Linked DNA regions of Homo sapiens: all the other regions are linked to region 2. The links come from fine-mapping of genetic effects on gene expression. A gene starts in region 2. Each other region holds a variant in brackets. All regions are shown on one strand. Distances are between the middles of the regions.

Evidence for each region. PIP is the estimated chance that this variant, and not a neighbour inherited with it, causes the effect.
Region 1: its variant is the best candidate, but not a certain one, in a credible set for the expression of NRN1 in monocytes (TOPMed, PIP 0.63).
Region 3: its variant is the best candidate, but not a certain one, in a credible set for the expression of NRN1 in whole blood (INTERVAL, PIP 0.60).
Region 4: its variant is the best candidate, but not a certain one, in a credible set for the expression of NRN1 in lung (TOPMed, PIP 0.74).

Annotation. Positions count from the first base shown.
Region 1 is chr6:5,978,132-5,986,274 of GRCh38, forward strand. No RefSeq gene overlaps it. Among named protein-coding and RNA genes, the nearest start is that of NRN1, 25 kb to the right of the region's middle. The variant C/T (reference allele first, on the strand shown) is at 3,793.
Region 2 is chr6:6,003,814-6,011,929 of GRCh38, forward strand. It overlaps NRN1 (neuritin 1), which reads right to left and starts at 3,112. Exons shown (of 3, transcript NM_016588.3): 1 at 2,882-3,112. The coding sequence starts at 2,936. RefSeq lists an enhancer at 1-576 and a silencer at 5,043-5,162.
Region 3 is chr6:6,304,183-6,312,182 of GRCh38, forward strand. It overlaps F13A1 (coagulation factor XIII A chain), which reads right to left. Exons shown (of 15, transcript NM_000129.4): 3 at 1,169-1,357. The region is part of intron 1 of LOC124901253 (a long non-coding RNA gene); the gene reads left to right. Among named protein-coding and RNA genes, the nearest start is that of F13A1, 12 kb to the right of the region's middle. The variant C/G (reference allele first, on the strand shown) is at 3,532.
Region 4 is chr6:6,023,144-6,031,286 of GRCh38, forward strand. No RefSeq gene overlaps it. Among named protein-coding and RNA genes, the nearest start is that of NRN1, 20 kb to the left of the region's middle. The variant C/T (reference allele first, on the strand shown) is at 4,439.

The sequences.
Region 1 (8,143 bases), 26 kb before region 2:
AGAGAGTAAACATATTTGGCCGGGCGTGGTGGCTTACGCCTGTAATCCCAGCACCCTGGGAGGCTGAGGCGGGCAGATCACGAGGTCAGGAGTTGGTCAGCCTGACCAACATGGTGAAATGCTGTCTCTGCTAAAAATACAAAAATTAGCCAGGCGTGATGGTGTGTGCCTGTAATCCCAGCTACTCAAGAGGCTGAGGCAGGAGAATCGCTTGAACCTGGAAGGCAGAGGTTGCAGTGAGCCACGATTGCGACACTGCACTCCAGCCTGGGCAACAGAGCAAGACTCCGTGTCAAAAAAAAAAAAAAAAAAGGAGACACATTTGTGGGTCCATTATTCTGCCTACCTCAAAGATATTCATTAATCGAGGTGGGGGGTGGTGGTGCTAGAGATTTTCTTTAGAACTTTGAGTGAGCTCCTCTGTGAATCAGAAAGATATTCTTGTAAAGTCTCTAGCCTTATGCTTGTGATATTTAAGAGCTTCAGTGATTGCCATTTCTTGGAGAATTCCTTTATATTTTAGCACACTCTCAAAGAACATTATTACCCTTCCCCACTGAGTTTTGCTCAGAGTCTCAATGTCATTATTTTATTCCTTGCGCTCCCTTTTTTTCTTAGAGTCATCAACTATAATGTAAGTTGCTTTTCCTTGTTGTATATCCTTTCTTCTGGATCTTTTGGAGAGGGTTCAGATTATATATTTTTCCTGTTTTTTCAGAGTGGGGGAAAAAGTCTCCAGGAGAGGAGAAGGAGTTTTCTCACTTGCCTGCTATTTCATTTCCCTAGGCTTTCAAATTTATACACACAGTCCATGTGTTCTGATTTTTCCACACAGACATTTTCTAACAGAGATGTTTGTGCAATTTCTTTGCATCTTCACTTCATGTTACGAATATAGCCAAATTCAAAAAATATACCCAGCCAGAATAAATGTTTGATCTTGTATCACTGGATTCTTGCATATAACTGGCCATTAAGCAACTAAAACAACTGGACTTCAGAACAACTGAATTAACAAATACATTGATAATCTGATCAATTTTTTGGTTGGATAAGATCCAAACATTTTAAGATCTGGCATTAAAGAAAGAAAAAGAATATATCACGCATTTTTCAATTTAGTTAATTAACAGCTCCTAAATTTAGTGTCCTATTTCTGGTTATGTGTTAAATTTACCCATGGTGTTGTCCTTTACATTTGAGAAAAATTTAATGAAGTCTTTCTATAGGGAAGTGTTAAAAGTATAATGCCAAGTGAAAAAGAGATTATAAAATAACACATACAATGCAATTTATTAATGTATGTTTCACAATATAATTTTTCTATAGTACACAAAATAAAAATATAAAACAGATATACATATATATACACATGAATGATATTAGATCTAGTTGACAAACAGTGCAAGCTTTCACCTTCCCTCCAATCCTGAATCTATTAAAATAAAAAGCTATATTTTAGAAAGAATACATTTACAGCATTCTAGGAAAACATGAAATGAAACCACCATTAAAAGACCAGGAAATTCGAGACATTCCTGGAAAGAAGATAGAAATGAATGAGAGGAGACTGATAACAGGCGTGAACAGAAAACTACATCCCGACACACCCGTGAGTGAAAGGCCAATTGGGGAAATTCCAAACTTAGAGAGAACAAATGGAACAAGAAGAGAAGTAGCCATGGAGCAATGCTTCTAGTGAGTCATAAACAGCTGCATCAGGTCAGAGAGGACAGCCCAGAAACCATCTCTCTCCTGTCTCCTGGTTTATACACACAACACACGTGTTTGATCCCAGGTTAAAAGTGGAGAACTACACTCTGAAGCAAGCAAACTTCCTTCCCTTAAGGCGTCCTGGTGTAGGGGCCTAGAATAGAAAAGCAGAGCTTAAGATAACTCCAGACTGCTACAACAATCAGGGAGAGAAAAATGAAGACACAGCTCTCTCCAAGAAGGAAATACATGAAAGGGCTAAGGGGGGAGGATCATTTGAGGCAGGAAGTTCAAGACCAGCCTCGATGATATAGCAAAACCCTATCTCAAAAATGAAACAAAACAAAACAACAACAGGGTTTCACCACCAACCCATTGAACTATTGCCATGGTTTGCCACATAGTTGACTAATATCCATGTTGACATGAGAAGCGCGATGCCAATTTTTTGTCTCTTTTCATTGTAGGTAACTGGCTTTCTTCTCTCTGGAGATGTCATTCAGCAGGCTTTTTCAATCTGACAACTGGTGCTTTTCTTCAGCTTGGGAAATTTTATTTTATTTCTTCAATTACTTCCCCTATTTTCTCTGTTCTCTCCTTCTGGAGTTTCCATGAGTGAATCTTTTTCAATTTTCAATGTCTTTCAATTTTCAATGTCTTTCAACTTTCCTATCATATTTTTCTTTTAACTGATTTTTTTTTTTTGTCTTCCTTCTTGGATCCTTGCAAGGGTGAGCTCTTAATTTGGTCACTGTCATGGACTGGATGTTTGTGATCCCCCAAATGTGTATGTTGAAATCCTGACCCCTAAGGTGATGGTCTTAGGAGGTGGGTTCTTTGCAAGGTGATTAGGTCATGAGAGTGGAGCTCTCATGAAAATGATTAGTGCCCTTATAAAAGAGACCCCAAATATCTCTCTCACTTCTTCCCCTTCTGCCATGTGAGGACACAACAAGAACATTGTCTTAGAATTAGGAAAGTGAGCCTTCACCAGAACCTGACTATGCTGGCCACCCAGGCTGTGGCATGTTTGTCATAGCAGCCCGTACAGACTGAGACTGACACCTTTGTGAGCACATGCATCTCAATGCTGCCAGAACCTTCTTAGAAAATGTGTAGAATGTGTCTCAGAATTGTCCACCCAAGGAACAGAATAGGGGAATATTTACTCACCAGCTTTCCATCACTTTCAAATATAGGTAAGCATTTTAGATGTAACTCAGGGTGAAAAATCCATTTATGTGCTTTGCAAGTTGAAATTCCGTAGTCAGTTGATATATAAATATTTCTTATTATAAAATACTGTATGATTAATTATTCTTGTGGAAACTCTTAATTTTATGTACTAAAACAATTATTAAAGAGCTTTCCAATTAACCAAGCTGATGTATCTGGAGAGTGTAAGTATTTTTTAATGGATACTCGCTGCAAATATGCCCCCATCAGCTGTTCGAGATTAAAGGAGACTAAAGAGGCATGACAGCTACGTGCAATGCATGACACTATTTTGGATCCTGGCTCAGGGAGAAAAAGTTCTATGAGAGACATTATTGGGACACTTTGCAAAATTGGTTTCTCTCTTGTGTTGAGTCTCTTAACCTGAGATTGTTGGCTGTTTCTTTGCAGAGACCTGCAAGGAAACTATGATCCCTAATTAGAGACTCACGAATCATGCAAAGGTTTATCACAGAGAAAAAACTAGGGCTAAATTACTGCCCACAGGAGAGGAGTTTAGAACTACAGGATGATAGTAATGCTTGACACTAATAAATCACTCTGGAAAAGAAGTTTATAAAATCTGGCAGCTCTTAAAAATCAACATGCTATTTATAGAAAAGAATAGGAAAGAGAACTGTGCAACAAAGACTTTTTTTTGCCTCCTTTGAGCCATTTGAATCATCACACTCGCCATATTACTAACTTACACTACTTGTAGCATTCATCCTTTGATGGCAGAGGGCCAAAACATTCTTAGAAAATAGTTAGGAAGGGAGAGGAGTCATCACTTCCTTAGCTTAGGTTCAGAGTTCTGCTGAAAACCACTGTCTCTAGCACTCAATCTGTACTCTTCACCTGACT[C/T]CCGGGGAGAAAGTTCTACAGAGAGGAAGCTGGAGCGTAGAACAAGGCCCTTAAACTCACCATGCATTCTGAAATATCCTCTGTAGTAGCATGCATGCTTACTAATTTTTTCACAGTGGACATAGGAATATTAGTACTGTTTGCCTGTTCATTTATATATTAATTAACTCATTTATTCATTCACACGCCTTGATTCATGGTTTCAGAGATCAGTTGTTGAGTTTTCTGTATATATAAAAATCTGCGCTAGCTGCTATAGATATAGACACATACACGAGAGATGGCTTCTGCCTATAAGAAGAAACAGGCAGTAGCTAACTGTCTGAATTCATTCATTCAGCAAATGTTTATTGAGTGTCTACTCTAGATCAGGCAATATTCTAGGAGGTTGTATCCTAGTTGGAGCAGAAAGCTATTAATTAAGCAAATTTAAAAGGTTGTTCCCCTTTATGATTAGTGCTGTGAAGGAAATGAACAAAGTGATGTATGTACCTGCTATGTGTGAGCCATGTAATTACTGTTATTTGACCAAGTGAAGCTTAAAAGATACTCTCTAGTAGAGACATGTAGCGAGATATTAAAGTCAAGCTTGGCCGGGCTTAGTGGCTCATGCCTGTAATCCTAGCACTTTGGGAGGCCCAGGCGGGAGGATTGCTTGAGCACAAGAGTTTGAGACCAGCCTGGGCAACATAGCGAGAACTCATCTCTATAAAAATTTTAAAAATCAGTCAGGTGTGGTGGTGCATACCTGTAGTCCCAGCTACTCAGGAGGCTGAGGTGGGAGGATCACTTGAGCCTGGAAGTTCAAGGCTGCAATGAGCTGTGTTGTGCCACTGCATCCTAGCCTGGGTGACAGAGGGGAACCCTGTCAAAATAAATAAATGAATAAATACAGGAAATCTTCAAAACCTATTTAAGCCACTATGGTTGAGTTATTAAGCAAAATTACCAAATACATCATTGTTCTATGATATAGTTTCTCAACCTTGGCACTACTGACATTTTGGGACAGACAATTATTTGTGGCAAGGGCTGTCCTGTGCATTGTAGGATGCGCGGCAACATGCCTGGCCTCTACTCAGGGATGCCAGTGGCACCCCCTTCTCAGATGTAACAAGCAAAACTGTCTCCAGGCATTACGAAATGTCTCCTGTGGAACACAATTACCTCTGGTTAAGAAACACTGGTGTATGGGGAAAAATGTTCCGAATGCCAACTAGGGACCCTAGAAATATATATTCTGTCCCTCAATGTCCTCACCCAAGAGTCTCAGAGGGCTTCTTTTCCTCCTTGTTCTTATGTTTTCTGTCTAACCTTAGCCCTGCATCAGATACTTCATTTTCCTCCTCCCGTCAGCTTCCTGGGGGAGAAAGGGCAGGAAAAGCAGCTTCAGGGAAGCTGCTTTCCAACTGGAGCAAGTCAACCCCAAAGACAGGAGAAGTGGGGGACCTGAGTGGTGTTGCCATCACAGGCAAAGTTTGCCTCTTGATTCATTTTGCTAAGGATCCACACCCCCCCAGTCACACTCCACACAGAGCCCTGCGGCGACATTTACTCATGCAGTCATGGGTTCATGTGCCCCATCGCAGGCCATGAAGAACGTGGTTTGTATCAGCTTACTTTCTGCTCTTCTGGATGATTGAGGGCAGCCACATGGGATCCTCTGGAGGTGCCCAGCACTTGCTTCTTGGTCCTATATCGAGGCCTGCTTACTGTTAAGAGCAAAAGAGACCAAGATGTTGGCTGAGCACGGTGGCTCACACCAGCAATTCCAGCATTTTGGAAAGTTGAGGGGGGTGGATCACCTGAAGCTGGGAGTTTGAGACCAGCCTGATCAACATGGAGAAACCCCCTCTCTACTAAAAATACAAAATTAGCTGGGCATAGTGGCACATGCCTGTAATCCCAGCTGCTTGGGAGGCTGAGGCAGGAGAATCGCTTGAACCCAGGAGGCGGAGGTTGTGGTGAGCTGAGATCGAGCCACTGCACTCCAGCCTGGGCCACAGAGCAAGACTCCACCTTCAAAAGAAAGAGACCAAGATGTGAGCTGAGTGGTGAAGATAAAATCTGGATGTGGAACTGTAGTGATGCAAAGGCAGAGGGGAGCAGGGGAGAGGCTGGAGGTGACCACTCAAGACCTTTAGGAGACAGAAAACTGCACAGAAGACTGTCTGCCCAAGGCCTAGGGCCCAGCTTTGCCCAGGGAATCGAAACTTAGAGTATGAAGCAATGTTATAAAGCAATTTTTTTTTAGTTGTGCAAGTGTCAAATGCTGTAAATGAAACAAAATCAGGCAATGTGATAGTGCCTGTTTGCTGGGAGGATTTCCGGGAGAAGGTGGCTATCACTTTACAATGAAAGGTCAGAGAAGGTATCTCCGAAGAGGTGGCATTGAGGTTGAAACAAAATGACAGGAAGGAGCCTTCCACACAAAGACTCTGGGGAGAGGCAGAGGAAATAATGAGTTCAAAGGCATGAAGGCTAAATGAGCGTGGGGCATGCAAGGCAGAGAAACAGCAGGTAAACAGTGGGGTAAGAGAAAAAGGCAGGCCTTGGATCAAGTAGGGAGAGACACATTATAGAAAGAGCAAATGATCCTTACCCTGATGGGCTGTCTCGGCTCTTTGCAGTCCCTCTCAGTAGCAGACACCCACCTGTGCTTGATAGTTTTCACCCTGTTTCATAACATTGCACCTACTCAGAAACCACTGTCTCTTTGTATCTGTGATCACTTAGAGTCCATCAGCTTGGTGCTGACTTTCTTCTCTTCATGTAGACAGCTGTGTTATAAAAGACCCAAAGGGAGAGGGACAAAACCTAAAAAGGCTACTTTGGGGTATATATGAGCTTTGGAATTACCCATCTCCCTGCCAGGAGGTGAGGAGGGAAGAGTTCACAGTTGGCGTGTCCCTTGAGCAAGAGAAGATAACTCGCTCCTGCTGGTTCTGCAAGGTTTCAGCAGTGATGGTTGTTTTGTAGTAGCTCTGAACTTGCCAAGAAAAACACATTGTTTAAAACAAGCCATTCATTTTGAGAAAGGCTATTGTGTAATAATTTCTTTTTCTTCACCCCTTCATCCACAACCACGCAGAGACCATGGTCATCAAAATAATAGGTCTTTTTTATTTTTACTTAGGGGATCCCAATTTTTCTCCTGTGGCTATGAACAAGGGAAAATATAGCAAAGGGAATGCTGATTGGTTTATTATGCAAGTCTGTAGTTGGGATGACTATAAAACAATGAACATTATTTTCATAAACTACATGAAAACCAGTGTCTTATATTAAGCTTACATAATTACAGCTATGTCATTCTTTATGTTCCCATGTCAATGTTCTCTGCTTCAGATGCCCCTCCAAGAGGACAGGAATTGGACCCACTTTGGGTAGCCTTGTACAATGCAACCCAGCACCCAGCAACGTCCTGAAGAGGCTGCTGACTGCTCTGGTCGAAGTGGAGCAGGGCCCTTCCTCCCTCCACTGGAAAGGGTGGGCAAGAAGCATCAGTGCTTCTGGTATTTGACTCAGTGAGACCTAGATATTGCAGATCTGCCATCAAAAATATTTGTAAAGCCGTTTGCACCACTATTATCCTTCTGCTCCTTTTAAAACCTAACAGGCAGGCCCAACTTGGAAACTTCCAAGAATGAAACACCACCTTCAGAAAACGTGGTAATTGATAGAAGAGTCTGGTGCTACTGCATGATGCATTCCATACCCTCTGGGCTCCTCTCTCTAGTTCTTTAACCTAGTCTCTCTCAAGCTATGATGAGAAAGGCACTGATTATTTCAAAATGGTGCAAATCACCTGCTGTTTAAAAAACAAGATAAATCCCCCAAAAACGAAAAAAATGAAGTTGTCAAAGACACTGGAATGAAATTTCTGAAGAACCAATCTTTTCCCACTGTGTTTCTCCATCAAAAGGAAAAGCTAGGCAAGCTTGTTGAAATGATCAGCTCCATGTGTTCAGCCTGAGTATAGGGTAGCAGGAAACTGCACCCTAATTTTAGTGTTCTGCATGGACTCTCATTACTGCCCAAGCACATGGCTCTCACATGCATAAGTCCTTCTTGAGTACTGGTTGCTAACCCTCCTCCACACTTGGTTTGCAGAGGATATTTCCAGAGTTAGAAGGGTCTTCCAGAATTTCAGAAAAAGAGCACCAGATATTCAATAAACCATGGTTTTTCTAAAGGAATTAATGGGTTGTCTGTCAGTCAACATTTGGACAAGCTGAGTCTAAGGTTGGCCCTGTAGCTCAGGAGTTGGGTTTCTACAGTGCCTGTTCTCTAGTTCCTTTTTGTGTTGTTCATCTCTTCTAATAAACTTTGGGCATAGGTTCAGCAAGTG
Region 2 (8,116 bases):
AGAGAAGCACAGCGTTAGGGCGGGGAAGAAAGGGTGAATCTCAGAATCGAAATCCGCACTGGCGCCCACGACCCTGGGCGCCGGCCTGGTCCTCGGCAGCTTTCTGGCGGCTGCGCTTGTGTGTGAATGTGTCCCGGGAGGACCGGACACCTCAATCCCCCGGCCCCCAACGCGGGCGCCTGTCCGCGAGCGCCGGGCCAGACGCCGAAGAGGAAGGTGACCGAACCCGTAGCAGCTTCCGAGAGCGTACCCGTTTGCAAATTGCTGCAGGAAGAGCGAGGCGGGCCTTGCGCTTTTTAATCCGGAACGGGAAGCACTGGGGAAGGGACCGAGGTTAACTTCGACCTCCGCTGGGGCAGATACGTAAACCTTCTCAAACCTCCGAGTTCACCTTACAGCGAACATTAAATACCCTTGCGACTACAATACTAACAAATCGAACACTGACGTAAAATCTTAAGAATAAACGAATCTTTGTTCTGATAGAGCTCGTTCAAAATGGAAATACACTCCACACATCTTCCTCTATAACGCATGTCACAAATACAGCTTTGCAGAGAAGAAACGAAATAAAATAAAGTCCAATCTCCCCGTCCACGTCTCTCCCCACCCCTTGCCTACACCCCCAAAACTCAGTGGCGAAAGAAGCCCCTAAAATGCATTGACATTTTTTAAGGGGAATTGGGGCTCGCCGGGGGCGGGAGCGCTCTTGTCACGTTATCTTCCCAGGCGCTGCTGGAGAAGACCCTGCACACCGCGCATGTGTGAGTGTGTGCTGTGTAAAATAAGTCGTGAACATTTCTGTCTTTTAAAACTGTGACTCCTTGGACTCTAGCCTTCTCTGGGAGGCCGGGAGGCTGCGCGCGGGACGGATTTTGCAGGCGCACGCGTCCCAGCAGGTCGCAGCCCGTGGGTCCCTCGCTGTCCTTCCTGAACCCCGCTTAGGCGAGACTCTAGCGGGTGACCCTGGCTCCTTCCCTGTCCTCTCTGCCGTCCCCTTCTTGTGCGGTTTCCATCCGTTCATTCATTCGTTCGACCTCTCATTCATTCCGAACTTCCTCCTGCTGCGTCTTCTTTCGTGTTCACCACACTCTTCTACCTCCCCGCCCCTCCCAACCCCCACTTTTCTTGCCAAATGTCAATGATTTGGGACAGCTCCCAGCCGTGAATTAATAAAGACCGAGGTTCTGTTGCAGGAAAGGGCAGACATTAGGGAACAAATACGTTCAATTTCAATTCCACAGTCAACAAATAGTCATTTTTGGACCGAGGTTAATGTGTTCAAAACGCGTCCCTCAGGCACGACCACCGTCTTTTTTTTCCCTCCAAACCTCTCAAAGTAAGGTTATTTCCTACCGGGAAAACAGAGTCCCAAATCTTGTCCGATTAAAATTTCTATCTCAAAAACAACTCTCTCTCCTGCTCTCTAAAAATTCAAAGGTTTATTGCAAAATGCCACATTCACTTATTTCCAACATTTAAGGAATTTGCTGCCATTAGAAATATTATTTACAGCAGCTCTTTTCACTAATGTCAAAGATTCAAAACAACCAGATTTAAAGCATTGTCATTTTTTGGAACTAAAGGAAAACACCAATATCCTGCACTCACACACTCTAAAATCTTTATAATGTTTCTGCATTATAAAATCTCAAAATCATGTCAGTTGCATAAAACCCCACTGCAAAGAATCCATTTTAAGGTCTAGAGAACTCCAAACCTTGTTTCCTTCACATTTCTTATGGAAAAAACATATTATGCATTCTCCTTTCTTGCCCCAAACCAATTACCTAAAGCACCCCCTCCCCCAATACTGCAAGGATTTGTCTGCAAAGAATGCCACAGCCTGAACTGATAGGAGGTAACAATTCCGTTTCAGGAGTTTCTTTTTTCCCCCGTGTTGTCCATTCTATTAATAACCTGCTTCACTTTCACTTTTAGGCCACGTTAATTAATGTTCTGACCCAGTGTCGGAGAAGGGGGTTTTCTAGTGCCCTCTTCTATATCTTTTCTTCATTCTGGATGGTAAAAATGTGAACTTTAAAAAGACCCCTGACAGCGTAACTACAACTCAACATTCCTTAACATAAAATGGGGACTAAATAATTCCTTCCATAACCAATCCCAAACAAACAAAAATAACAAACACCCGACATGACATATTCCAAACACTTCTTAACCCTTTCCTATATATAAAATGCAGACACCAATGTGTAAAGTAGCAGGCAAATGCATCTAGAAAAGTATATCTACGTAAATTTGGCTGAATTCATCCTCTTCAATGGTAAGCATGTTAAAATATGTGGTCTGAAGTTCCCTATCACTCTCGATTTGCCCACCAGCCGGGTCTGCGGTGCCCGTGCAAACGCTGCAGCTAGGATATAGGGGGGAGGAGGGGCGGGAGAATGACAAAGTTCTAAATGCAGCAGTCTGAGCCCTGGAATATCTTTGCTTTCAGCACATAAACTTTCCAGTCCTGGCTGCCTAGCCATTTTATTCCTGCATTCACATTTCGACTCTTCAAAATCATATCTTGCAGTATCGCAGGGGCCAGTACATTGCCCCAGAGCGCACCAAACCTGGTATAAACCCAGAAAGGGAAACAAAAATGGATGTGTGCTCAGGAAAAAGGGGGAAAAAAACCGTGTCCAGAAAATGTCCGGCCGCACACATTTCCTGGCGAACATTTGGAATCTATAGCTTTAGGAAAAACCGATCTGGGACGCGCTAGTCCCCAGGAACTGATGCCCCCACCCTCGGGGGATTGCCGGCTTCTCCGCACCCTGGGGCGGCCGCGGACCCGCTAGTCCCCCTCCGCGCCTCGGGCCGGGGCAGGCTGCCTCCCGCCTCCAGCCTCCAGCCGGGCTGAGCGGCCACTTACCTATTTGCACCGCGAGGATCAGTGAAATATATCTGCCGTTCAACTTAAGTCCCATCCTACGTTTAGTCAAACCATTTGCGACCGCAGACCTTTAAATAGTTAGTTTAGAGAACGCGGGGGAAAGCCAAAAAATAGGCATTGCCAACAAGTTCCGGGAGCGACAGAGACTTTATGCACTGGGAAGGCAGAGGGAGGAGAGAAAGAGAGGGAGCGAGGAAGAGACAGAAAGAGAGAGAGAGAGAGAAAGAGAGAGAGAGAGAGAGGCTGAGGGGGGGGGGAGAGCTGGGAATGGTTCACTCCATTAGAAGGGGGCGGAGGAAGTACAGCCTCACGCCCACGAGCAGGCCTGACGTGGGGGATGACACGGAATGATTTTTTTTTTAATATAGACACCTTGGTAGAGAATCGCCATTTATAGTCATCAGAAGCTGGAATTAATCAGATATCTCCAATTAATGTGCGATCTGAACGAAATTTTGCCTCCCGGGGGTGAGCACTTTCCTATTCTAGCGGTCACCCCTGCCTCTTCCTCGTTCCGGGGGCCCCCCAGCCCCGCCGCCTCCCTGCGCAGAACAGGGGCTCCCCCTCCCTTCCCCGCCAGGAGCTGGGGAGTCCTGGCGCGCCCACTCGATTGTTTCAACCTGCTCCCCCTCCTCCATCAGCACCACAGAGAATCCAGCCCGCTCTCTACGATGCAGGGGGGTTTAAAGGAGCGGGAGAGGGAAAAACAGCTAAGCTAGCTCGATTAATTCGAAAGCGCTCCTCGGCCGCCCGCCCCCTGCGCTTGCCTACCCTCTTTTTCTCCAACCCAGCAGCTGAGCTCTGGGCGCAGCCTGGAGCGCGTGAGCACGCAGCCCGGCCCCCCGCACGAGCACACACACACACACACACACACACACACACAAACGCGCGCGCGCACGCCCGCCAGCCGCGCCGAGCGCCCCCATGCCCGCCCGCACACAAGGCACGCGAGCGCGCGCACACGCCCAGGCCCCGGGGGTTTGGTTTGCACACGTGGGGCCCCAGAAATAAACACCGAATGTCCTCTGAATTTTACCCACCTGCGATGCCCCAGCGGGCCAAAGGCCGCTTCAAGGGACACAGCGACACCTGTTTTAGGGGGCGAGTAGGGCACCGGGGAAGGAGCCTCTGATAAGACAGTTTTCGGATACTAGTGATTTACCAACCAACTCTCAGCGCTTTAGGAAATTTCCAAGGCAAGCGCTGGTGTGCGGACTTCTTTCTAATCTTGATGCGCCTCTTGGGCTTATTTGTTGGGCTACACACACACGTACCCACACGCACACACGTACATCACGTACGCACACGCACACCCGGACCCACACACACCTGCACTGTCTTTTGATGCTCAGGCACAGACCCTGTGTAGGTGTAGCCTACCCTGCAACAAAATACTTCTGCAGCTGGCTTTGTGCTAGGTGCAAGCTGCTATCGACGACAGCTTGAGTCAAAACCGAAAAACTAACAGGGCTATTTCCTTTCTAAACGCCTTTAAGCTCTGGTTTTCTTCCTTTCTTCTGCACCAAACAGAAAAAAAAAAAGTCTAAATTGTAGCGTCTTTAATAAAATGCTAAAGAAGGCATTGGCCAGCTTTAATCCTTAAGCCTGTGGAGAGAAAAAAATGAAAACGACCCCCCAAATTTTGCCAAACTACACTAGAGGACGTCAAGCTGTCAAACTGTAGAAATGCACACGGATTAAGGAGAAGCGTTGAATTTGCTTCTACAGGCAGCTTGCCCTCTAGGGCCAATCTTGCCGTCCCCATACTCAGATATTTGGAGATGCATAGACAAAGGGGGAGAAAGGTGCAAAATAACGGGGGTAGGACAGGCTGTGGAGGGTAGGGGGCCGAGGGGAAGCTGCGGGGGTCCTACTGCAGCACTTGGTGACGTGAGGTGTCTGCAATGTGCGGCCCCTAACTCACGTCCCGCGGGAGCCTCAGACTCCCATGCAGCCTTCCTGGCCCTGGGGGCGGAGTCATGTCTCCCCGCCCCTGGTTATGTCACCGGCCTGCGGGCGGGGCGGTTGGGGGCTCGCCTTCCGGTGTCCAGGGGCACGGTGGCGGCCCCGGGTGTTTCCTTTCCCCGAGCTCGGAGGCTCCGGGAAGAACCGAAAACGTGGGCGGACAAGGGGTGGGGCGGGGGCTGGTGGCGAGAGGGGGGCGTTTCTCGGACCCTCCCCCGACGTCTTCCAATGGCAGGGCGGGAGGCTTTCCGAGGGGCGGGGCCTCAGGGGGGTTGCCACGCGGCCCGGCCCACGGCTCCGCCCCTCGCTCGGGGTTCCGCGTGGGGCCGGCCCAGCTTTCCCGGACCAGGCCACCAGCTGCGGGCCCCCAACCTCGCTCAGACTCGTGCAGAGCCCAGGCTTGGGAGTGGCTTAAGGTTTTTTGCCCTCAACGTCCTTGCCTTCCTCCTGCTTATCCACCTGGGATCTTCACAGCATCATTTTCTGGGATCCTCTCCAACCCCTCCCCTGTAACTCTGAGCGTGGGGCGCTGGGGATGTGGAGTAGGCAGGGCTGAGGGCCTCAATGAAGCGGGTGAACCCACGCGCGTGCGCACAGCCGCCCGCGCCGCGCCCCGGGCCGATCCGGTTCTTGCCCTTGGGACGTGGCTGCGCCTCACCGCCCTACCCCGGGAGGGAACCCCCGCTGACTTTTTCCTCTCTTCATTTTCCTCCCCAGGCGTCCCAACCTCCCTCATAGGCCTGAGTCTTTTTAAAAGTGAAGAAGAGAGAGGCAAACAGAGTTGGTACTCTACATAAATGATTTTCTGGGTAGATAGATGCACATGACATTTTATTTTTTGAAAAATTCTCATCTTTTAAATTACAGGTCGTTCTGCAGTCCAGGCTCCATGCAGGGTTGATTCTTCGTAGTTCTTTAATTAAAGGATATTGCATTTCATGGTTGTCAATGCATGCTGTCTGGGAACGGTAGCATCCATGGTTGGAGGTGGCTTTGGAGAACGTTCCCTCTTTTATTAATGTGAAAAGCTCATCTCACATCATACTTGGGGTTGAAGATGCAGTGGGAAGAGCAGTGAACAGGGGCAGGGAAACCCAGCTCACAGGCTGACCCCCACACTTTGGAAAATGAAGGAGAGTGGACTATGAAGTAATTTCCAAAGCTGTTTTCACCTTTGAAATTTTGTGAACTGAGGATTTTCTAGAATTCTGTGAATGGGATTAGGAGTGGAAACGCACAATCCGAAGAATAAAATCCGTGCAAGAGTGCTTTTTATAAGCCAACTTCTTGCAAAGAACGTATTTCTTTTTGATAAGCAATTTTGTTTAAAGAAACAAATACAGTTCAGGAGAGGGAAAAAGTCACAGGTGCTGTTTGGGTCTGCATGTTGAATTGAGCCAAAGTAACTCCCAAAAGTAAGTCTGCATAATTAAGGTAATAAATATGCAAAATTCCTTATCCCTAGAACGGCCAGAAAGAGACTATGTCTAATTTTAAGCCTGGTGGGCACCAACTTCCTTTCTCGTTTCATGGCGCTACAGCCCTAGTCTGGATGAGCAGTATGCCAGTTGATTCCCCAGCTCCTGCTATGAATCCATCATAGGTCGGCTTTCCAGAAGCTGCCACCTCGACAAACAACCCTTTGAAATTATTTGCAAGAGCAGTTGTCAAGGCCACTAGGAAATCCCATCTTTGTATTCTAGGTCAGAAAAAATCGCTGCTCTATTAGAATAGATTGGTCTAGCAATACATCTCTCTCATAAATTTAGTCAGTCATTTAAATATCTTCAGCTAAAACCTTTAATAAAAATGTGAATTTATATTACATAACTTTTCATTAAAATGATAACTATACTGTATTTAAACAATCATATAGATTACGAGAGGAAGGAGATTTTTGTGGAGGTATATACATTGGTAGAGGCCCCAGTAAAAATCTACTTCGGGAGGCCTGGGTCTACCCTTGCATCTGTGGCTTGGTAAGGTGATTTTTTTCACTCTCTGATCTTGAGACTCTTTACAAAATTAGTTGAAACTTCAAGGCCTTGCTGGCCGGGCGCGGTGGCTCACACCTGTAATCCCAGCACTTTGGGAGGCCGAGGCAGGAGGATCACCTGAGGTAAGGAGTTCAAGACCAGACTGGTCAACATCTCTACAAAAAATACAAAAATTAGCCGGGCATGGTGGTAGGCGCCTGTAATCCCAGCTACTTGGGAGGCTGAGACGGGAGAATCACTTGAACCCTGGAGGCAGAGGTTGCAGTGAGCTGAGGTCATGCCATTGCACTCCAGCCTGAGGAACACAGCAATACTCTGTCTCAAAAAAAAAAAAAAAAAAAAAAATTTAAAAATTGAACTTGATTTGAATGCAGTAATTTGAAATCTAGGAGCAAATGCTAAATTTGAAATGTAGAAGTGTGATTAACTTCCATCTTAAAAATAAACACTTTATTTAAAACAAATCAACGTTTTTATCATGAAATATACACACGGAACAATGCACAAAACAAGCATGCACAATTCATTGACTTATGACAAAGGGAATGCCTATGTGGTCCCCACTCACACTGAAACAACTGGAAGAGGCATGACAACTAAATGCAACCTGTATTCCTGGATAAGATTCTAGACAAGAAAAGACAGAGATGTTGTTGGAACAGCCAGTAAAATTTCAGTGAAGTCTGTGAATTAGGCATTAGTTTTGCACCAATGTTGATTTCCTGATTGGGGAATTGTATGCTGATTATAGAAAAAATTGTCCTTGTTTGGAGCAACATATACTAAAGTTTTTAGAGTGACAAGACATCATACCTGTAGCTTGCTCTCAAAAGGTTCGGAAAAAGGAATATTGCTAATGGGGATAAATACAAAGCAACGGAATACATGTAGCAAAATGTTACTAACTGATGACGATCTAGCTAAAGGGGTATGCAGGTTCTTTGCATTGTTCCAGCATTTTTTCTTTAGGTTGAAAGTCATTTCAAAATAAATCATTTGAAAAAAAAATCAACTCCAGGTGGGTTAAGGACCTAAATATTCAAAGTAAAGCTTTGAAATATGAAGTGAAGCACTCAGGTGAATATTTTTAAACCTTTTAAAAAGCATGAATTGAAAAAGATTAATAAATTTAATCAGAATTAATGAAAAACTTTTGTCTGTAAAGTAATATGTTAGAGTAAATGAAAGAGCAAATTACAAACTCACAAAAATTAGTCTCAAGAGCTTAAGAACTTCCCAAACCAATTTTGTT
Region 3 (8,000 bases), 300 kb after region 2:
GTTGTTTTGATGTAAGCAATCTTTATTATCATTGAGGTGTTTTTTTTCTAAATTTTTCCCCTTAAACTCTTCCTAAAACTGGATGCTGAATTTTACCATGTACCTTTCTGTGACTGCTGATTTGATTGCCTAATTTTTTCCTTTAATTTGTGCATAGGATTATATGGGCAGATTTCCTATGTTGTGCCACCCCTGCTTCTCTGTGCATGTATTTCCTTGATAATCTTATAAATTCCTATAGAAATGTTTACCAAAATGTGTCAAAAGTTAATAGCTATAACTTAATAAAAGGGTTCCATGATCAAATTAATTTAAGAAGCACCAGACCAAAGTTAAATGGTCCTTCCCCAGACCTTTGAAGCTAATGTGCATCGTTAATCTTCAAGAGGAGGTTAAAGGCTGGGCATGGTGTCTCATGCCTGCAATCCCAGCACTTTGGGAAGCTGAGGTGGGTGGATAACTTGAGGTTAGGAGTGCGAAACCAGCCTGGACAACATGGTGAAACTCTGCCTCTACCAAAAATACATAAAATTAGCTGGGCGTAATGGTGTGCAACTGTGGTCCCAGCTACTCTGGAGGCTGAGGCACCAGAATCGCTTGAACCTAGGAGGAAGAGGTTGCAGTGAGCTGAGATCACACCACTGTTCCAGCCTGGGCAACAGAGCAAGACTCTGTCTCAAAAAAAAAAAAAAAAAAAAGGGTGATTAAAGTACAAAGTGTTTAGTGAAGTTTATTGGACTATATTTTTCACGGGCCATCCCATGGGACTAGATCAGAGCAGAATCAACTTTCGGAATGCATACTTGGATTGCATGCTAAGATTTACAAACATTTTCAGCACGAGACCAATTAAATCATGGAGATAAAAGTTAGAATCATAGGATGCCAAAACCATTTGTTTGAGGAAGAATAATTTAGTTAAGCAACACATTATACCAGTTTTACTTTTATTTATATGAGATTTTCTCCTTGGGTGGGCCCAAGTTATCAATATTTGGCACTATACAGACCAGTCTTAGAGCACAGGGTAATTCAGGGGCTGGATGTCATTCCAGCTCCTGCCACTGTTGACATATGACACTAGGAAATCACACAACTGTGCCTGTACCCACCTCTCTCTACAATGCAACCCATGGTGTCAAGACTGGAGCTTGCACATGGCACTCACCAATGACGTATTCCACCCTGAAGAGATCCCTTCTGGGGTCATATGGACGACTGAAGTCAATCTGCACATAGAAAGACTGCCCTCTGCGGACAATCAGCTTGTTGTTTTCATACTTGTCAGTGTGGTGGTCCACCTTGTTAGTGTCCCATCTCTCCTTGAACAGGTGAACGCTCGTGACATTAAGAAACTCTATGAACAAGAAAAACAAGGGTTGAAGAAAATAATCAACTAACTTTAGTTTAAACATAAACTCAAAAACAAGATTATTTTCCCTGAAGAAGGCAGGTAGCAAGGTCTGCTGAATGAAACTCTGTAGGAGGCAGGGGTAGGGGAACACAGTCTCGAGAGTCAGCCTCTTGTGACATTCTTGTTTTTGAAGAGAGCTTTTTAAAGCTTTTTCCACCTTTGATCTCGTTTCAGACCACAAGGCACTCACTGTGGGATAGATGGATGCCTGTCTGGGAGATCCAAATACAGAGAAGCTAGGGCCAGAGTTGAAGTCTTCAGGTTCTCAGTCTCACGCTAGTTTTCGTTATGTTAGAAGCTTCCCATCATGTCACTGCCTCACTCTGTGACTAACCAGGCAGAAGCAGGGAATAGCCACTTCAATTTTCTTATCTTTCCAAAGGAAGGAATCAAATCTGACAAAGCCTCAAGGGGACATTCGAAGGACAAAGTTAGCCATTAATCTAAAATTCTCCTTTTACCTCAAAAAGGGTCAAATGCCTCCTCCCTCTGTAATTCTAAAAGTAGATCTCATCCCTCAAATGCAGGAAAGAGAGGGAGCAGGTCTGGAGAAAGGACACTAAGATTTCCATGAGATAAGTGTGATTGTTTTCAGTGACACAGAAACTATCCTCAGCTTTCCTTAGCTACTAATGGGCCAGTTCAAAAGTCAAAACCTGGACTGTCTGATGCCAACATTCACAGGTTTTTCTTTTGATTTGTGGCATCAGGAGTGTAAACGTAAATCACATGTTTCTTAGTTGTCTAACTTTGTATGTGTGACTTAAATTCATTTCTTCATCATAGAATGGAGACACTAATATTCATTTCATAGCCTAACATGTTCCACTTCTTACAGGAATGTGACAGGAGACGGCATGAGATGACACGTATGCAAGCATTTAGCAAAGGGTCTGACACATGAAAGTCAGCTCTCTTCCTGCCCTTTTCCCCTTCCCCTCTATGAATGATGACTGAAAGTGGGGGTCATCCTAACTCCCTGTCCTCACTGTACTTTAGAAGATCTAGTCTAGAGACTGGTTTCTGCATGTGCATTTGGCATTGTAAAGAGTTATTGGGGAGAAGGTGGGGTGGGAGGGTAGAAGGGTCGGCAGGGGTGCCCTGGCCTCTTGCCCTCCCCCTCCCTGCCCCTGCCTGATGCATGATTTGCCTTCATGGCTATAAGCACCATGTGCGCAGAAAGCACAGTTGCTGAGCTTGTACCCATGCCGGGGCATCTCCTGCCATAGTCGAATGGCTTCCTTTACCTCCACACATAAATCCTGTGCAGGATGCCTGGTCCCTTTGGACCCCATTGTGTTCCATAGTCAAAACCAAGAAGTTGGGCTCTTTAAGATCCTCTTCGGTCCTAAAGTCCAGGAGTTCCTGAAACACTGCTGAGCAATTCAAAGTTCAGGCAATCCTGAGTTTGAATCTCAGGTGTCAAAATTACTGCGTTAAGGTACTTTACCTTTCAGAATCTGAATTTTCTTATTTTAAAATGAGGATACTAATACCCTGAGAAGGTCTATGAAGGCTCAATGAGATAACGGTGCAGTGGGTCTGGCACTATGCCTGGCACATAGTGGGTCCTAGGCTTACTGTGGCTCACTGCCCCTAAACTGTGACAGCCATTTCACAGGGCGTGGTGCTCCCCGGGTTACCCTGACTGCAGCATTACGGCAAGCAGAAAGTGCAGGATGCAGTTTTATTTTTACCTCTTCTCAGAACCCTGTTGTATACATGTTCCCCTGAAGGGCACTTTCTTTCCATTATGCTGTGAGCTAAAGATGTTTAATTCTCTAGACCTCTCTATTCCAAGCTGCCTTTCTCCTAAGTCCTCTGGTCTTATTAAGACCACAATCCCCGTGATAAACCAGCCCAAGAATGAGCTGGAGGAGCACAAATGTTCCTGTTGAAAAGGAGCTTAGCAATCAACTCCTCTGGTCCTCTTTCTTAGCACAGGGGCTTTAAAGTTTTTTTTTTAAAAATAGCTAAACACCAAAGTCCTTAGAAATGGGTTTCATCAGTTCTCCGTTTACCAGCACCAATGGAAGGAATATACTGATATTACATCCTTACAGAATCTCACAGAACAGCAATAGCATTTTCTCAGCCATCTGGTAGAACTACTATAC[C/G]CTGCATGAAACATTTTCATGAGAGCCCTACTACTTGGGCTTCTAGCTTCCATTTGAACAGGGAACTCATTTTTTCATAGGGCAAACAGTCCATTTTTAAACAACTCTAATTATTTGAAAACTTCTCTTAAGATAAACTGACATCTGCTTCCTTGTAATTTTTCTAACCATGGGTCCTCGTTCTGACTTCTAGATAAATATAGAATAAGTCCTCTTATTCATTTTAGCTGGCACTCTCTAGGTATTTAAAGACTGCTCATAGGATTTTTTTTTTTTCTGAGTAAAACATTCTTCATTTATTTAACTGTTTGCTTGTTTGAAACAGAGTCTTGCTCTGTTACCCAGACTGGAGTGCAGTGGCGCGATCTCGGCTCACTGCAACCTCTGCCTCCTGGGTTCAAGCAATCCTCCCCACCTCATCCTCCTGAGTAGCTGGGATTGCAGGCACTCACCACCATGCCCCGCTAATTTTTGTATTTTTAAAAAATTTAATAGAGACGGGGTTTCACCATGTTGGCCAGGCTGGTCTTGAACTCCTGACCTCAGGTGATCCGCCGGCTTGGCTTTCCAAAGTGCTAAGATTATAGGCGTGAGCCATCACATCCAGCCTATTTAACTGTTTTTAAGAAGTTATTTCTAGAACTTTTATCCAACGCTCTGTTTTGGAATATTTTCCACTTTGTCAATTTCTCTTTTGAAGTGTTATTTTCTGGAATTAAGTACATTACTCTAGTTGTGGTTTTTCTGTAAAAAAAAAAAAAAGAGACCATTACATCTTTTAAAATAAACAGTCTATTATTTCAAATCAAGATATTGTCAGTGTCTTGGATACTCTTAACTCACTGTTGATTTATATTATGCATCTGATAAAGCAAAACCCTTAAAACACATTCTTTTTTTTTTTTTTTTTTTTTTTTGAGGCAGAGTCCTGCTCTGTTGCTCAGGCTGGAGTTCAGTGGTGCAATTTCAGCTCACTGCAACTTCTGCCTCCCGGGTTCAAGCAATTCTCATGTCTCAGCCTCTCAAGTTGCTAAGACTACAGGCTCACACCACCATGCCTGGCTAATTTGTTTGTTTTTGTTTTTGTTTTAGTAGAGATGGGGTTTCACTATATTGGTCAGGCTGGTCTTGAACTCCTGACCTCAGGTAATCCCCCTGCCTCAGCCTCCCTTAAAACACATTCTAATGTTATTTCTAGCAACAATGGATCAAAATTCAGTTGAGGCCCCTACAAGTCACCCACTCATGTTGCTATTTGGCTATATTTATTTGTGCAATTGTTTTCTTCTGTTTAGTTCGATATTAAGACTTTGCATGGGTTAAATTTCTTCTTATTGAATTTGGCTCACTGTCCCATGCTCTTAAGATCATTTTAACCCCTAAGTATGCATTTAATATATTTAATATTCTCCCTAGCTTCTTGTCCTCTGGGAATGTTATAAGTGTGCTATTTTATGTTGCCACTCAAGACATGGGTATAAATGTTGATTAGGCAACTGTCTAATAACTACTAACTAAGTAAACGCACAGCAGTAGATGCTAAAATGTGGACAGATAATTATGACACAGTGTCAGACATCTCTGACAAAGGAAGTAAAGAGAACTGAGGGGAGTATCAGGGAGGAGCCCCTAACCCACATTTAGGGGGTAGAAAATAAGGAATTTCTCTGAAGGAAGTGAGACATAAGCAGTGAGCAAAAGAGGAGTCAGTTGTCCATGTGGAAAGGGGGGTGGAGAGGAATGCTTCAGGCGGAGAAAGAAGGATAGGTGAAGACTGAGGCAAGAGAGTGCATAGTTGCTTAAGAAATTGAAAGATGATGGTTGGCTGAAATGTACTAGTGGGAGCCACGGTGGAAGAGTAAGGAGGAGCCTGCTCATCACACGAGCCTTGGAGACCATGCGAAGGAGTTTGGGTTTTAATTGCATGGTGGATCCAGTGAAGAATCTGAAACAGCAAACTGACATGATTAGATTTATATATATATTGAAACTGCTTCTGGTGGCAGAGTGGAAAAGGGATTGGAAGGGGCAAAGCTGGAAGCTGAACCCAGTTAAGAAGCTGTTGCAGTGTTCTGGGTGAGGGGCCACGTGAGTTTAGCCTGCATGTAGGGGTTCAAGGCACTGCTCCTCTGGTACTCCTGGATTTGCCTTCTCTATTCCTACCCTCCCTCCCTGCATGATAATGTGTCCCTGAAATGAGTCCTGCCTTGGCTTCCCAAGCAGCTCTACCTACAAGGCAAAGTAAGGCTGGAGACGGAGAAATATTCGAGTATTTCTTTGGTATCATTGGTATGTCTCATCCATCCTAGTTCTCATTGCAAATGAAAACCTGGCTTTCCAGCTTTACCTCCTAGCCTAGTGTACCTGGTTAATGTCTAGTGAGACTGGTTAGAGTCAGTCCATCATGGCATAGTGCTAGTTTTATGGGATATTGACAGGTATTGGAAGAATTAGAGCTCCATGTTTAAACCAGTGTGGAAAATGCTGGCCTAACCAAAGCTGATCAGGATTCTTTACTGAAGCATTCATGTGAGACTTTAATATGCTGATGTATACCACAGATATCTCAGAGGGGCAATGGTTTCCAAATGTAAATGACTATGGAAACTTTTTTCTTTGGAGATCTGCATTTTTCAGAATATGTTTTTGGAAATGCTTCACTACTTACTTATTGTGCAGCCTCAGAAAAGTTATTTAATCTATCTGAGCCTCAGTTTTCTTATCTTTAATATGGGAATGAAGTACCTATCTTATAGAGTGGCTGACACCAAGTACATTCTTAATAAATGTTTATTATTATTGTTGTTGTTATTATTATTAAGAGAAGTAGAAGAGCATAGTAAGAGCATAGACTGTGGAGCTAGGCTGCCTGAACCCAAATCCCAACTCTCACGTACTGTCTTTGTGACCTTGGCAAGTTACATAAATGTCCTGTGCCTCAGTTTTCTCATCTGCAAAATGAAGTTGGTGTGAGGATTAAATGAGAAAATGCACCGAGTGCTCTATCCTAGGGCCTGGTACATGGTAAATGCTCAGAAATTGATGGCAATAATAATCATAATAGCACTGAGCATTTGGATTGGCCCTTAGGACCAATCATTAAGTAGTCAGGTATCTGAGAAGGCATGGTGTGAGGCTGGAATCTGAGCAATGGAAGTCACAAGGTAAAGAAGGTCCCTGGGAAGCTTTTTAGCAGTGGCCTTCCAGCCTTCCCAGGGAAGCATGCCATTTTATACTCCTTATCTTCTGAGCAGACAGGCTTGCTTTGAATTTCCACAGGTAAATAGAAAGCATTTCTCCTCTTGATTCGCAGGAAACATCTGTCTTTTTTTTTTTAAAAAAAAGTATCATTGTCTCTTTGTATTATCTTTATATAGGTGATTTTTTAGCCATGGGATTGTAATCCCCTTGAAGACTGGACCATGTCTTAATTATCTTGCTATAGTGCCTGGGGCAGTGTGCAGAAATGCCACAGCAAATATGCCTCCTTTCACCTGAACACCTTTTACGTGAAAATTTGGAGCGTAGAGTTGATCATTCATTTCAAAATAAATTATCTCATTTACTGTAGGATTAACCATAGGTGTCCTTTAAATGTCATTTACCATTTTATTCTCAAAATATGCTAGTTTCAGGACATATATATAGTTGAAGGTATGATGTGGGAATTTATAACATAAGACCTCCAGATCAGCAGTTTTGTTTCACATTGGAATAAAATACTGTCTTTCTAGCCTGCTTATATGTTGATAACAAAGGGTGAGAAAAAGGGTGCTGATTAATGCCTTTGAGAATAGAAAACCTAAGTCAAAAAAAAAAAGACAAAACCCCAGCTCATGGGTTTATAGTTTTTCCATAGTGTAAACAAACATACATATATATCATGAATATATATGTTTATATATAATATATAAAAACATATATTGTTTATATATTATATATTGTTCATATAAATTATATATATTACATATGTTTATATTATATAATGGATATAAACAAATAATATATTACAAATATATATTATTTATATATTATATATTACAAATATATATTTATATATTATATATTATTTATATCTTTATATATTATATATTGTTTATATATAATAGATATAAGCAAACTATATATTTGTTTATATATTTGTTTGTTTTCACTATGAAAAAACTATAAACCCATGAGTTTGGTTTTTAAAAATATATTGTTTACATATATAATATATAGTTTTTATATATTATTTATGTATATATTGTTTACATATTATAAACAATATATTTATATATGATATGTGTATATATATTATATATAAGCAAACTTTTTATATATATATAAAGTTACATATATATAAAGTTATACGTATAAAACAAAATTTATTTCATTGCCCATGAGTCAGCCACCCACAGGTCAACCAAGTATTTGGTTCTTATGACAGCTGATAGTATCAATTGTTTTAAATTATATCATCTATACTG
Region 4 (8,143 bases), 19 kb after region 2:
CTTTCTTCCTTTTCCCCTTCCTTCCTTCCTTCCTTCCTTCCTTCCTTCCTTCCTTCCTTCCTTCCTTCCTTCCTCCCTTCTTGACAGGGTCTCACTCTGTCACTCAGGCTGCAGTGCAGTGGTGCAATCGCAGCTCACAAGTGACTCTCCTGCCTCAGCCTCCAGAGTAGCTGGGATTATGGGTGGGTGCTAGCATTCCTGGCTACTTAAATTTTTTTTTTTTTTTTTTTTTTTTTTTTTTTTTTAGAGATGATGTCTTGTTATGTCGCTCAGGCTGGTCTTGAACTTCTGGGCTCAAGTGATCCTCTCACTGTGGTCTCTCAAAGCTCTGGGATTACAAGCATGAGCCACCAAGCCCAGCCCAATCTTGTGACTTTTTAAAAAAATCTTTATTGTTTTGAGACAGGGTCTTACTCTGTCACCCAGGATTGAGTACAGTGGTGTGATCTTGACTCATTGCAATCTCTGCCTCCGGGGCTCAAGCGATCCTCCTGCCTCAGCTTCCTGAGTAGCTGGGACCACGGGCATGCACCACCACACCCTGCTAATTTTTCTATTTTTTGTAGAGATAGGGTTTCACCATGCTTTCCAGGCTGGTCTCGAACTACTGGGCTCAAGCGATCCTTCTGCCTCATCTTCCCAAAGTGCTGGGGTTACAGACATGAGCAACTGTGCCTGGCCACAGTCTTACTACTTTTAAAGTGTATATGACTTGAGACTTTTCCTACTCCATTAAATAAGGGGATGAGGTTTCTCAGATGACGTCACAGGACTCTTTGAGGCATAAAATTCTATTATTCTAATAAAGCAGAAATGCCATTGAGCAGCGAATAGTTGTCACAGAGTCATGTGCTTACTTCTGCAGGTGAGGGGAAGCCACCTCTGGACCCTCAGGCTTAGCAGCTGGAGCCAATACAGTGTTGCTGTTCAGCAGCAGGAGTGACTGACAGCTGTAGGAAGTGAGAGCTGGTTGCATATGGAGAAGGCACAATTTTCTCATTTGAAAAACCAGTGGGGGCTGGTGGTGGTGGGTAGCTAACTGATTTCCGGGGTCTCTCTAGCACTACAGTTCCATGATTCTGAGAGTGCAGAAGGAGTAGTAAGTATCAGGCCAGCAATCTGGGACTATTTAGTTTTGCCCACACATCTCAAAAACCAAAAGGAGTGTGAAGTATTAAAGCACAATTCATGGAATGAAAACGGCTGTTACTGAGCAGGACTGGTGCTGTCCAGGCATACAGAGGTGAACAAAATGAGCATGGTTTGTGACCTCGTGCTTCTTATGGTCTGGTAGGAGAGAAGTATTTGACACAGGTAAACAAACCAGTGAGTAATACAAACTGTAACAGGCGCTCATGCCTTCTCAAAGTATGAGAAAGAAGTACTAACGGGAGGAACCTACTTTAGATTGGGTGGTTGTATCAGTTTCATAAGGCTTGCCATAACAAAGCACCGCTAACTGGGTGGCTCAAACAACAAAGATTTATTCTCTCACTGTTCTGGAGGCTGAAAGTCTAAGATCAAGGTGTCAGTAGGGTCCTTTCCTTCTGAGGGCTGTGAGGAGCAATCTGTCCCAGGTCTCTTTCTGGCTTCTGGTAACTCTTGGCAGTCTTTGATGTTCCTTGGCCTGTAGCGGCATCACCCTCATCTTTGCCTTCATGTTCGCATGGTATTCCTCCTGTGTGTGTGTCTGTCTGTGTCTGTCTGTGTGTCCACATTTCCACTTTTTTGTCACGTTGGAATAGGTCCCACCTTAATGGCCTCATCTGCAAAGACCCTATTTCCAAATAATATCACATTCACAGGTACCGGGGTTAGAACTTCGACATATCATTTTGATGGACACAATTTACTCCAAATCTCAAATACTCAAACATCCATCCACTGCCACAGAAGCTCACAAAAGGAATATGCAGAGGAGTCACCAAGGAAAACCACTCTGCTTATCATAATTAGGCAGATGAGCAAACCCTATCCCCCCAGAGGAACCAGGTAGATACAGAGGTGAACTATGGGGATCATAGATGTTTTCTCCAAGGAGAGATGATATTTACATTGAAACCTGAAGGAAAAAGGGGAAAAATGGGCAGAGAGCCAAGAGAAGGTCATTCCAGGAAAAGATAAAACCTGTAACAAACAGGGAGTTGTGGTGGGAAGGAGCTTGCACATGTGAGAGTCTGAAAGAGCCCAGCCAGTGAGGAGGACAGCAAAGGGGACACAGGGACAAGACCAGGTGGCACAGAAGCAGGGCCTCTTGCACCTCACCTTAGGAGTTTCAAGTTTATTCTAGGAGTGATGGGAAGCCATGGAAGAGTTTCAAAGGAGGCCAGTGTCACACGAGGGTAGACACAGGTCTGCATCGATGAATAGCTCTGGGGAGCATGGACTGGGTGGGTCACAGGGCATCCGTGCAGGAAGCTGTAGAGGTGGCAGGCGCATATTCCTTTTGTGAGCTTTTGTGGTAGTGGATGGGTCTTTGAGCATTTGAGATTTGGAATAAATGTCTTTCTCTCATCTAAGGATGGTGGTAACTGTGAAAATGGAAAGAAGTTGATGGATTTCTGAGACATTAGGAGGCTGGACCCACAGGACTGATTGGGATTGATATCAATATTTCTAACACAAAATTTGGTCCAGGTGCACCAAATGGAAGTTTTGGGGCTTGTGCGTGGCTTCACTCAGTTGATGAGTTTCATTCACAAGAATTCGTGTTTATATAAGAGCCTGAGTCCGATGCCTTTCACTAGGTGTTGATAAAAGACAGCCCGCAGTTCACCTTTGAGCTGAGACAGCTTTTGTTTATTCCGCATACTATTTAAATAACAGGGACTTGTTACATAAAGATGTGTACTCCTAGCTGCTCTTGTAAAGTCAGAAAAGCTGGCAGCAAGGGGACCTGCAATCTTGCTTGGCCCCAGTGAGCTGGAGGTGAGCAGCAGCTTCCCCCTTTAGACAATGTGCTCTCCAGTACCTCACAAGTGGAACTCTCCCTCTTTCTCTACACACAAGCATTTCCCTTATTTATCTTATTGTATCTACCTGATTCCTCTGGGGGGATTGGGTTTGCTCATTTGCCTAATTATGATAAGCAGAGTGGTTTTCCTTGGTGACTCCTCCGCATATTCTTTTTGTGAGCTTGTGTGGCAGGGGATGGGTGTTTGAGGATTTGAGATTTGGAATGGATGTCTTTCTCTCCAGAGACTTTATAAACTTGAATGAGAAGGGGTATGATAAATCCCAAAGGTGGACTGTGTGATTTCCATGAAAGGGTTCAAGTTTTGAATGCAATTGGTCTCTTATTTCCCTTTAGTCCTCCCCAGAACTACCTGTAGTAAGTGTTGGCAGCCTTTCCGATAACCGAGGAAAGTATTATATACATATTATATTCTGTTTAAGAAAGGAGAAAAATGTATATTTTGGGGGGATCCTCACAAACATGATGAAATTCTAAAACATAAAGCTTGTATTCAACTCTAGTGTTTAGGGAATTTTAATCTTTGTAGGAAACTAGGCATTTCCTAGTATTGTTGAAAAAAATGAGAAATACTAGGAAAGCAAGTATTTCCTTGTATTGTTGGAAAGGTGGAGCATTTCAGTAATTGTAAGTGCATAAGTAAATTGATTTGGATATATTCCCCATAAACTGATCTCTAAATTATGAAACCACAAGGAACTGTAAATTGCAGAAAACTTTAGCTATGGGAACAAATGTCTTAGCAAAGGCTACCCAAAGTCTAATGTTTATTTCTTTAGATAAGTAACTTAGCTAAAGTGAAATTCTTACATAGTCTTTTAGAAGCATACTGGCTGGCATGTATAAATGAGGCTTTATTCACAGGCAAGCAGCTAAAAGGAAATTCTTGTTTCTGTTCGTGGAGAAGTAACTACCATTGCTAGGATGATCACAGGAAGGAAATGGCTATTTCCACTTACATACCCTCTAAACAACAATTAAATATTAATTAGCAGAAAAGTAAAAGGACAGATGACTGCTTTGACTCCCAGATCTTTATTGAGCTTTAACTCCCTGCACCCTTTGGCCTAATTGTTTGGCGTTAAACCACAAAACATGATAAAATGTACCAAAAGCCTGTGGCCGATAGTTACTAGTTATAATCTGCCTTGAACTGAGCCTAACCTTAAGGTGCCATTTGTAATCCTCTTCAGTGGTGGTAACAATGACATTTTGATGGAAAAGTAGTAGTTTCATTAATGTGTATATTTCATTTTCCTTTAAAGCGAACTCCTCAATAATATTGGTGTTGGGAAGTAGGATCTGTCTTATTGAGTGCCTTAGGAAACTCAAGGAATAAAATGGAGAGAAGGTGAGGGTGATATGATTTGACCAGTAGTTTACTCAAATTTCTGCCATTCTATGAAATACAGTGAATTGTTGCCAATGCCCTTTCAGCCTGACCACACGGAAACATCTTTTCTT[C/T]CTTCCTTCCTTCCTTCTTTTAATATAATGCCAAAGTTATGTCATATTAAATAAATATATGCAGAGGTAAATAAACAAATATCAGCTATCAGGAAAACTGGTTGCATCCCAGAAATACGTCTTAAGCAATAGGTCGTAAACAATGTTATAACAAAGCTGACCAATCAACAGAGGTTCCATCTCAGATTCGGCAGAACCAGAGAACATTCTTGGCCTCAGTGGCAAGTTTCATGCGCGTCCATGTGAAGAGACCACCAAACAGACTTTGTGTGAGCAATAAAGCTTTTAATCACCTGGGTGCAGGTGGGCTGAGTCCGAAAAGAGTCAGCGAAGGGAGATGGGGTGGGGCCGTTTTATAGGATTTGGGAAGGTAATGGAAAATTACAGTCAAAGGGGGTTGTTCTCTGGTGGGCAGGGGTGGGGGTCACAAGGTGCTCAGTGGGGGAGCTTCTGAGCCAGGAGAAGGAAATTCACAGGGTTAATCACTCAGTTAAGGTGGGGCAGGAACAAATCACAATGGTGGAATGTCATCAGTTAAGGTGGGGCAGGTCCTTTTCACTTCTTTTGTGATTCTTCAGTTACTTCAGGCCATCTGGGCGTATACGTGCAAGTCACAGGGGATGCGATGGCTTGGCTTGGGCTCAGAGGCCTGACATTCCTGCCTTCTTATATTAATAAGAAAAATAAAACAAAATAGTGTTGAAGTGTTGGGGCGGCGAAAATTTTTGGGGGGTGGTATGGAGAGAGAATGGGCGATGTTTCTCAGGGCTGCTTCAAGCGGGATTAGGGGCGGTGTGGGAACCTAGAGTGGGAGAGATTAAGCTGAAGGAAGATCTTGTGGTAAGGGGTGATATTGTGGGGATGTTAGAAGAAACATTTGTCATATAGAATGATTGGTGATGGCCTGGATACGGTTTTGGATGAATTGAGAAACTAAATGGAATAACAGAAGGAGAAAAACAGGTATAAAAGGTCTAAGAATTGGGAGGACCTAGGACATCTGATTAGAGAGTGCCTAAGGAGATTCAGCGTAGTCCTGCCAGCAAAGATTATTTATTTACTTCAAGAGTTTAGAGTGGCAGTTTGGGGATAGCACCAGGAGATATCAGCTGTGATGGCTTGGAGAAACAGTGTAAACCAGCAGTGTAAACAAGAGCAGGGCATGTATGAGTAGTTGAGAACGGTGAATAGGAGTATGACTAGACAAAAGATAGTAGGGACGACAAGTTTTTTGGGGGCACAGTCTAAGTTGGTCTGGTGTCGAATGAGACTGGGGCCTAATAAAAAAGAGTGTCTACACAGGAGTTTAAATGGGCTGTACCTTGCAACATTCTGAGGACAGGCCTGAATTCTGAGAAGCAAAGGGGTAATTGTCCAGTCCTTTTTAAGTTGGTGGCTGAGCTTGGTGAGGTGTGTTTTTAAAAGACCTTTAGTCCGTTCTACTTTTCTTGAAGACGGAGGACCGTAAGGGATATAAAAGTTTCACTGAATACTAAGAGCCTGAAAAACTGCTTGGCTGATTTGACTAATAAATGCTGGTCTGTTGTCAGACTGTATAGAGGTGGGAAGGCTAAACTGAGGAATTATGTCTGACAGAGGGGAAGAAATGACTGTGGTGGCCTTCTCAGACCCTGTAGGAAGGGCCTTTACTTATTCAGTGAAAGTGTCTATTTAGACTAAGAGGTATTTTAGTTTCCTGACTCGGGACATGTTGAGTAAAGCTAATTTGCCAGTCCTGGGTGGGGGCAAATCCTCGAGCTTGATGTGTAGGGAAGGGAGGGGGCCTGAATAATCCCTGAGGAGTAGTAGAATAGCAGATGGAACACTGAGAAGTTATTTCCTTGAGGATAGATTTCCACGATGGAAAGGAAATGAGAGGTTCTGAGAGGCGGGCTAGTGGCTTGTAGTATAGCATAGCCTGCCTTTGCTGGTGTGTGGCAATTAGGCCTGGTGGAACTGCCATCAATAAATCAAGCGTGATCAGGGTGAGGAACAGGAAAGAAGGAAATATGGGGAAATGGGGTGAATATCAGGTGGATCAGAGAGATACAGTCATGGGGGTCAGGTGTGGTATCAGGAATAATGTGGGAGGCCAGATTGAAGTCCAGGCCAGGAACAATGGTAATTGTGGGACTTAAAGAGTGAGGACAGCTGAAGGAGCCGGGGAGCAGAATGTATATGCGTCAGGTATGAGGAAGAAAATAGATTTTGGAAGTTATGAGAACTGTAGAGAGTGAGTTGAGCATAGTTTGTGATTTTGAGGGCCTCTAACAGTATTAAAGCAGCGACAGCCGCTGCACGCAGACATGAGGGCTAGGCTAAAACAGTAAGGTCAAGTTGTTTGGACAGAAAGGCTACACGGTGTGGTCCTGGCTCTTGTGTAAGAATTCTGACTGCGCTAACCATGCCTAGGAAGGAAAGGAGTTGTTTTCTAGAAGGTGCCGGGGTTTGAGAGATCAGTCGGACACGATTGGCAGGGAGAGCACGTGTGTTTTTATGAGAATTATGCTGAGATAAGTAACAGATGAGGAAGAAATTTGGGCTTGATTGAAGTAATGGGGGCTGTCTGTGAAGCTTTGCGGCAGTACAGTCTAGGTAATTTGCTGAGCATGATGGGTGTCAGGGTCAGTCCAAGTGAAAGCGAAGAGAGGCTGGGATTAAGGGTGCAAAGGAATAGTAAAGAAAGCACGTTTGAGATCTAGAACAGAATAATGGATTGTGGAGGGAGGTATTGAGGATAGGAGAGTATATGGGTTTGGCACCATGGGGTAGATAGGCAAAACAATTTGGTTGATAAGGCATAGATCCTGAACTAACTTGTAAGGCTTGTCTGGTTTTAGGACAGGTAAAATGGGGGAATTGTAAGGAGAGTTTATAGGCTTTAAAAGGCCATGCTGCGGCAGGCAAGTGATAACAGGCTTTAATCCTTTCAAAGCATGCTGTGGGATGGGATATTGGCATTGAGCGGGGTAAGGGTGATTAGGTTTTAATGAGATGGTAAGGGGTGTATGATTGGTCGCCAAGGAGGGAGTAGAGGTATCTTATACTTATGGGTTAAGGTGGGGGGATACAAGAGGAGGACGCAAAGGAGGCTTTGGATTGGGAAGAAGGGCGGCAATGAGATGCAGCTGTAATCCAGGAATAGTCAGGGAAGCAGATAATTTGGTTAAAATATCTCGGCCTAATAAGGGAACTGGGCAGGTGGAGATAACTAAAAAAGAGTGCATAAAAGAGTGTTGTCTAAGTTGGCACCAGAGTTGGGGAGTTTTAAGAGGTTTAGAAGCCTGGCTGTCAATACCCATAACAGTTATGGAGGCAAGGGAAACAGGCTCTTGAAAAGAAGGTAATGTGGAGTGGGTAGCCTCCATATTGATTAAGAAGAGGACGGACTTACTTTCCACTGTGAGAGTTACCTAAAGCTCGGCGTCCGTGATAGTCTACGGGGCTTCCAAGGCAATCAGGCAGCGTCAGTCTTCAGCTGCTAAGCCAAGAAGGAGTCAGTCAGAGAGCCTTGGGCCAGAGTTCCAGGGGTTCTGGGAGCGGCTGCCAGGTGAGTTGAACAGTCCGATTTCCAGTGGGGTCCCGCACAGATGGGACACAGCTTAGGAGGAATCCTGGGCTGTGGGCATTCCTTGGCCTGGTGGTCAGATTTCCGGCACTTGTAGTAAGCTCCTGGGGGAGGAGGTTCCCCAGGAACGCCTGGCC